Linked DNA regions of Homo sapiens. The protein of the gene in region 1 purifies or fractionates together with the protein of each later gene. This does not show direct contact. Each region holds a gene or a part of one and is shown in the gene's direction. Other genes may lie near its edges.

What was found.
Region 2: the proteins of SLC17A3 (region 1) and ADCY3 purify together in Homo sapiens (affinity purification with mass spectrometry; one large-scale study listed by BioGRID and IntAct). This does not show direct contact.

Annotation. Positions count from the first base shown.
Region 1 is NC_000006.12:25,864,178-25,867,828, reverse strand, and holds part of SLC17A3 (sodium-dependent phosphate transport protein 4), read left to right. Parts: intron 1-3,651.
Region 2 is NC_000002.12:24,819,154-24,822,804, reverse strand, and holds the end of ADCY3 (adenylate cyclase type 3), read left to right. Parts: intron 1-174; coding exon 175-294; intron 295-428; exon of another isoform or gene 429-1,164; coding exon 1,165-1,288; exon of another isoform or gene 1,289-1,956; coding exon 1,957-2,081; coding exon of another isoform or gene 2,082-2,240; exon of another isoform or gene 2,241-2,353; coding exon of another isoform or gene 2,354-2,425; exon of another isoform or gene 2,426-2,690; coding exon 2,691-2,873; 3' UTR 2,874-3,636; downstream 3,637-3,651.

The DNA of each region.
Region 1 (3,651 bases):
ATATTTTCTAACTTGACAGCATATAGTTTTCCATATTGCTTTATTAGATTCACAAAGTGTGAATATCTTTGTGAATCTTATAAAGCAATATGGATTCTTAAAGGATACACATTATATTCCAACATATCCAATAGATGAAGTATTTCTTAGCTGAAAAATCTTCTTGTGACTGGATATTTAATTTGTAGGGTTTTCTTTTGTTACTCGGCTATTATATCTATATATGAACTATATATGTTACTTAGGTTATTAGATGTTTATGAACTATGTATGTAAGTTATGATATATGATGATAAATGAATATTATTTAACATGACACTAGTCCACATTGGAATTATTTCTTCAGGGTTTATTCCTAAGAAATGAAAATTGTGAGGCAAAGAGTTTACGTATTTCATTTCCTTTGTTCACTACAGAGACGTTAGTTTTTAATCCAAACAAAAATAAAAACACAGGGAGGATTTTGAGCAGAAGAGGAGGTGATTTTATTCATGGTATGGTGAGAATACTCCAACTGCTGTATTGAGAATAGATTAGAAGCAAGGAACCAAGCTGAAGGTTACTGCAGAAATTCAGGCAGGAGATATTGGTAACTAGAACCACATGGAATTAGCTCTTAGCCAAAAAATAACAGTGGCCCTTGTGAGAAGTTGTTGGATTCTATACACATTTTGAATATGAAGACCATAGTACATTCCAGATCAAGGATTGCAAAGTGTTTGGAAGAATGAGATTTCTATCAACTGAGCTGGGGAAGACTCTGGGTAGAAGTTTTGAGGTGGTAGGGCTCAAGAGTTTGGTTTTGGACCTATTCAGTTTGATCTGTTAATCAGTTGATCAATTGAGTTTTAGTGGAACAAAAATTACGATGTATCAATGGTGTCTTCAGTTTGACAAAATGCAGTATTATTGTATTATATCTATGCTTTATTTTAATTTAAAACATGCTATTGCACCAATAGTATTTTCCACTTATGTAACCAATTATCTTAGCAGTACTAATTACATGATCTAGTTTTCTTCCATTAATTGCCACAACACCATTTACACACTGCATGATTCTTTTGGATGTTTTTCTATTGTTCCTTAGATTTTTCTGAGTATTCTTATTCTTCAATACAATAATGTCTTAACATTTTAGTCTCATGATAAATTTTGTAATGCAAATATTTTTCAATACCTCCCAAAATTCTTGTATAGTCATTCAACTAGGCTTTATTATTTTTTGCCAACTGTACTCATTTTCTATTTCTGCATGCATATTACCATAAACATAGTAGTCTGAAACAACATACATTTATTATCTTACAGTTTCTGTGGCTCAGAGCTCCAGGCACAGTTTGGCTTAACTGGTTCTTCTTCTCTGGGTCTCACAAGGCTACAATTGATTGGTTGATTAAGTTGCATTCTCATCTGCAGTATAGACTAGGGAAGAGCCCACTTCCAGGCTTATTCAGGTTGTTGGAAAAATTCATTTTCTTATACCTGTATGACTGAGGGCTCTGGCTGTTTGCTAGATTTTGGCTGAAGGCCATTCTCAGGTCTTAGAGGATGTTTGTGGTTCCTTATCGTGTTAGGTTCTCCAACTTCCTGCTTACTTCATCAAGCCCACATGAAGAGTGTTTATCTTTAGTCTGCTAAGATGGAGTCTTATATAACATAATGTAATCATGGGGGTGACGTCCCATCACCTTTGCCGTATTCTGTTGGATACAAGCAAGTGAAAGGTCCTGGCCCCATACAAGGGAAGGGAATTAGATAAAAGTGAGGATACCATGAGGTGGTAATCACTGGGGCCACCTTAAGGTCTGTCTGTCACATCAAATTAAGAAATAAGCTTTCTGGATTCTGAGTACAGTAGTACTGAATTCATTAATATAACCTCTCACATTCAAAAACCTATGATTTCATGGTGTCAGTGCCCTCTTCCAGTAGTTAAATAGAATACCCTCAGGTGCTTCTTAATTTACAATTTCTCACATGCATACAGACCCACACATTCTTGTATAGCTAGGGGTGATCACAAAAAAATTTAACAGACAGCACATCACTGGCACCAATCTATTAGAGTAGGCACAACTGGTATAGTTCATTCAGAATGGACACAGGACACAAATAACTTTTAAGGACACAAATAGTGGGCTGTAGGAAACACTTAACATCTGGCAAGCACCAGACTAAGCCTTTTAAATACACTCTCTAGTTAATCTTTCAACATTCTCATGAGGCAAATGTTCAACCTCCTCATTTGTAAGCCATTAGTCTCTTGGTTTGCTGATACCCTTTTTGGTAGCTTTTGACACCTGGGATCCCAAGGGAACTTGGGAAAATCAGAGGCCACAAGAACTCACAAATTATTAGTTGACTTGATTGATAGAGGAAGTCACCACCAGTGCTGAATCAGATTGAAAAAAACCCTTACAAAGATACTATGTTTCAGTTAATTCACTACAAAGACTTGTACTTCATCAATAGAAGATAGCATAGCCATAAGGGGAATCCTCCTTTATTAATCTCAAGGCACCTCTTTATCCCACATCACAGAGCCACATAAACCCTACAGCTGGGTGCACGTGGATTGTATTAATCACAGAAGTATTCTCATGGAATCATCTTGGACAAAACAGAAGCCACCATATATATGTGCTACAGTAGTTAAGAGCATAGACACATGAGCTACATTGTGAGCTGGTCTCTCTGTGCCTGTGTTTCTTCATCTGTAAAATAGTAGTAATAGCTGCTTCATAGCGTTATTGTGAGGATTTGACATCATGTTACATGACCTATCACAGACATTTGAAGTACCTACTGACTTCCTCTTCCCTGAAACTCTTGTCCCCTTGGCTTCCAGGACACCGCACTCTCCTGGTTTTCTTCTTATCCCACCACCCATTCCTTTTCACTTTCCTTTGTTTGTTCCTCCCCCATCTATTCAACCTCCAAACACTGAAGAGCCCCAGAGTTAGTCTTTGGTTCTCTTCTCTATTTATTTCAATTTCCCAAGTTTTATGGCTTTAAGTATCTTCTGTAGGTTATTAACTCCCAATGTTATGCCTCAACTCCTACTTCTCTTCTAAACTTAAGAACTGTATATCCAACATGCTCAACATCTTCTCTTTGGTGCCTAAGAGGCATCTCTGTTTTAACAAGTCCAGTAGGAAGCTCTTGACCACCCTACCTTACAAACCTGCTCCTTCCAAGAACTTTCTTCCTAGGAAAGCAGAACTTCATTCTTCTTGTTGTTTAGAACAAGAACCTCTCAAACTCCCCTTCTCCTTGCCTTCCACCCACCTGTAAAACTGAAACTCTTATTTGGTGTTTTTTCCACGCTGGGATTTATCTGGGGTCTGACCACATCTTAGCTACTGCCATGACCCTAATCCAAGATAGCTTCACTTCTCTTCTGAATTATTGCAATAGCTTCCTAACTGTACTTCCTCCCTATCGTTTTGTTCTCATTTCTGCAGCCAAAGAGATCCTTTCAAAATGTAAGTCATATCATGTCCCCCTTCTGCTGAAAACCCTCCAGTGGCCCCCATCCCACTCAAAGTAAAAGCCAAAGTACCTGCAATGGCCCACATGTCTTGAACAATTCAGGCCTCATGATCTAGCTTTCCTGACATCTCTTCTTGTACCCCTGGCTCACTCCAT
Region 2 (3,651 bases), on another chromosome or scaffold:
TTAGGAAGTTCTCCCAGGATCATGTGGCAGATAAGCGGTAGACTAAGTAACAACTTTGATAGGAAAGTGTCTCTTGGGTTTAGTGGGGTCCTTGTAAACAGGTACATCTGTCACTGGGTTGGGTCATTCCTCTCCCTTGACTGCTGACAATTCTTTCCTGAATCCTGGCCTCAGCTCCTGGACAATCCCAAGTTCCGGGTGATCACCAAGATCAAAACCATTGGCAGCACGTATATGGCGGCTTCAGGAGTCACCCCCGATGTCAACACCAATGGCTTTGCCAGCTCCAACAAGGTAGCTAACCCCAGTAGCCAGAGAGATGAGGCTCTGCCCCCAAGGCAAGAGATTGGCAGCCCAGACCTAGCATGGGGGAAATAAGAACTGCTGTGCAAAGTGGTCCCAGACACACACCACCAGCACCACGTAAATATAAATAAGAAATAGGGTTTATTGAGAAAGTTCGGCAAGCAGAGAAACAGAACAGACACACAACCCCCTGCTGTTCACAGCTCAGGCCTAAGATGGTTGTGTTCTGTGGCCAGGCCCCCTAAGGCTCTGTGCTTTCATAGGAACTGGAGAGCAATTGTCAACAAGGGAAACTGAAAGCATGGCCTTCAGAACTCTGGCTGACGGCAGCCTGTTCTTTTGTTAAGCTAATTTAGACCTTTGTTCAGCTACCAGGAGAGAAAATTAGGTGTAGGAGCCCTGGTCCCAAGCTCTGGTCTTAAAACACCATCATCCTGCTTTACCTCTACAACCATCCCACGGCCCTATTATATGGATGAGGTTAAAGAAACACGTCCAAGGCGGGTCATCCCCCTCCAGTGCTTATCACCTAGTTGAGGGATCCAAACAAGGACAACCTGACAAAACCTAAGGACCAGGACCAGGCCCAGCCAAGGTGAAGGGGTCCGCCTCGTGGTCAGACTCACAGGTCCGTCTCCTCTGCTCAATTGCCCAGTCTTTGCCTAGACCTGCTACGTGAACTTTGTCACAGTGGCAAGTCAGAGCTAGCGTGGCTGCGACTCCTTTGTGGGAGGAAAAGTAAGGCCTTGAACATCTAGGTGTAGGGAATCCACCCCCAGAACACTGCCAGGGAAGGCAGCAGAGCAGGCTGCTGCAGTGAGCGGCCCCTGACACTTTCTCCACGGTCCCCTGGCACAGGAAGACAAGTCCGAGAGAGAGCGCTGGCAGCACCTGGCTGACCTGGCCGACTTCGCGCTGGCCATGAAGGATACGCTCACCAACATCAACAACCAGTCCTTCAATAACTTCATGCTGCGCATAGGTGAGCACCCCCAGCTGGCCTGCCCCGCAGCAGGCTCCCTTCCCATGCAGGGGCCTGGCCCACCACCAGGAGAGACATGAGGCTCAGGACAACTGAGGCAATTCGGGTGGGGAGGTTCACGCACTCACAGGGCAAGGAGACCTGAAAGACCTTTAGTCCAGACGACTCTAGATGACTAAACCAAAAACCCAGCTGATGTGATGATCCGACTATACTGTGCCTACTGTTACAATAGAAGCTTGGCCTGCCTGGCTGAGAAGTGAGTTTGTGATCCATTTCCAGAGGGGTTGCTGTGCCTGCTGAGGACATGGCTTCCCAGACAGGCCTGCTCTTTGAAAGGAGTTAAGATCACCTGCTGCTTCTACTGAGGGGGTATCATTCCTGAGTGAGGTCCCAGGAGACTTGAAATACCAGCTGTGTTAGAAGCTGGCCACTACCATGCCGAGTAAATCTGCATATGGGGGGGGGGTGGCGGCTGACACCTAACAAGCACACGGATAAACAGGAGATGTGATTTCCACCCTCCAATAGCATACAGCCAAGTTGAATGAGGACAATGATGTGTTACATTAGGAGCTTTGTGGTACAGGTCTGGAGAGGAGATGGCTTCTGAGGCCCATAACAAGGTGTGGCCTGTGGCTGTGCTGAACTTTATGCCTCTACCCTAGGCATGAACAAAGGCGGGGTTCTGGCTGGGGTCATCGGAGCCCGGAAACCACACTACGACATCTGGGGCAATACAGTCAATGTAGCCAGCAGGATGGAGTCCACGGGGGTCATGGGCAACATTCAGGTATGTCCAGTGGCACAGCTGGCACGTGCTCAGACTCGGCATGAGAACAAAACCGGAACAGTGCTTTCCCACGTGCCCCTGCCTCCCACCCTGGCCCTGAACAGTAAGTCCAGAGGCAGAGACGTGGGGCAAGTGGAAAAGAATCTCTGCAATAGCTAGCCTCAGCACAGGAAGAAACACTTCCACCCATCCACAAAATCTGGGCTGAAGTTCTAGATGCATATGGCCTACCTTTGGGTATGAACCTTCTAATACCTTGTGATCTGTCTCAGTGGCGTCTGGCAGAAAAGCTCCACGAAAGGGGCAAAGGGACAGAAGAGCAGGCAGTGGCAGTTTCCAGGTAACAGTGCTGCCACCCAGGTGACCATGGCCATCCTAGGAGAGAAGTCTCTGGATGAGAGGAGGCCCCCAGCCAGTCACTCCAGGGTTCTCCTTCCCACCCGCTGCTCGCCACGGGTGGAAGGGCTTGGCCCTGGGAGGTTTGGGGAGTGTCCCGTACTGCTTGGGACCCATGGATCAGTGCTCGGCTCCAACCACCCAAAGCCCCCACCCGCCCTCAGTCTAGGCTCCCCCCGTAACGCCACGTTCTTGCTCCCCCTCCCTCTCCAGGTGGTAGAAGAAACCCAAGTCATCCTCCGAGAGTACGGCTTCCGCTTTGTGAGGCGAGGCCCCATCTTTGTGAAGGGGAAGGGGGAGCTGCTGACCTTCTTCTTGAAGGGGCGGGATAAGCTAGCCACCTTCCCCAATGGCCCCTCTGTCACACTGCCCCACCAGGTGGTGGACAACTCCTGAATGGCCTCGAGCCTGCAACAGTCCAAACCGGAAGGGAGAATTTATTTTTTGAAACTGAAGGAAGTCCCGACCTTCCTGGATTGAAGTGCACACTCATGGACTTTAGGTTTAGAAACCTCCTCAGCCTTCATTTGTTCGTGGATGTGTGAGCTCTGAGGGTGGCCCTGCTATTCCTGTGTGTGCCTGTAGTGTCCCCAGCATAGGGGTCTTAGGCATAGGGCTGAACAGTCCTTCCAGAGCCCTCGTTCCAATCCCTGCCGTCCTTGCCCCTGAGGGGCCCTGACCACTGTGAGCAGGAGGGTGGCAGAGCTGGGACAAAGCTGCCTTTGCCGCTGGGCTTTCCGGGACTGTGGAGGGAGCACAGGCGGGGAAGCTCCACTTCAGACAGGGCTTGGTGGGGCAGGACATGGCTCCCATTTTGAAGGGAGGTCTCCATGTGGTCCGAGTGAGGTGAGACGGCCCTCGTCCTGGTGTTCCTGATCATCTTGAAAGGTTCTTCTGGAACTCCTGTCCCCTTAGTCATGAGAACAGAAAGTGCAATATTTCCTTTCACCTGGCAGGGGAGGGGGGATTTATTTCTGAAAGAAAAATATATAAACAGATCTTCTACATTTATATTTTTAATCTTCTGTTAAATACACTTTCCGATATTGCCTTGCCTTTTGAGCTCTTGCTACAGTCGCCTTTGCTACTGCTTTAAGAGAATTTACAGGTATTGATAAAGAACAAGACTGTTTTATTAAAAGCTTTATTCAACTTGAAAGTGATTGTGGAAATT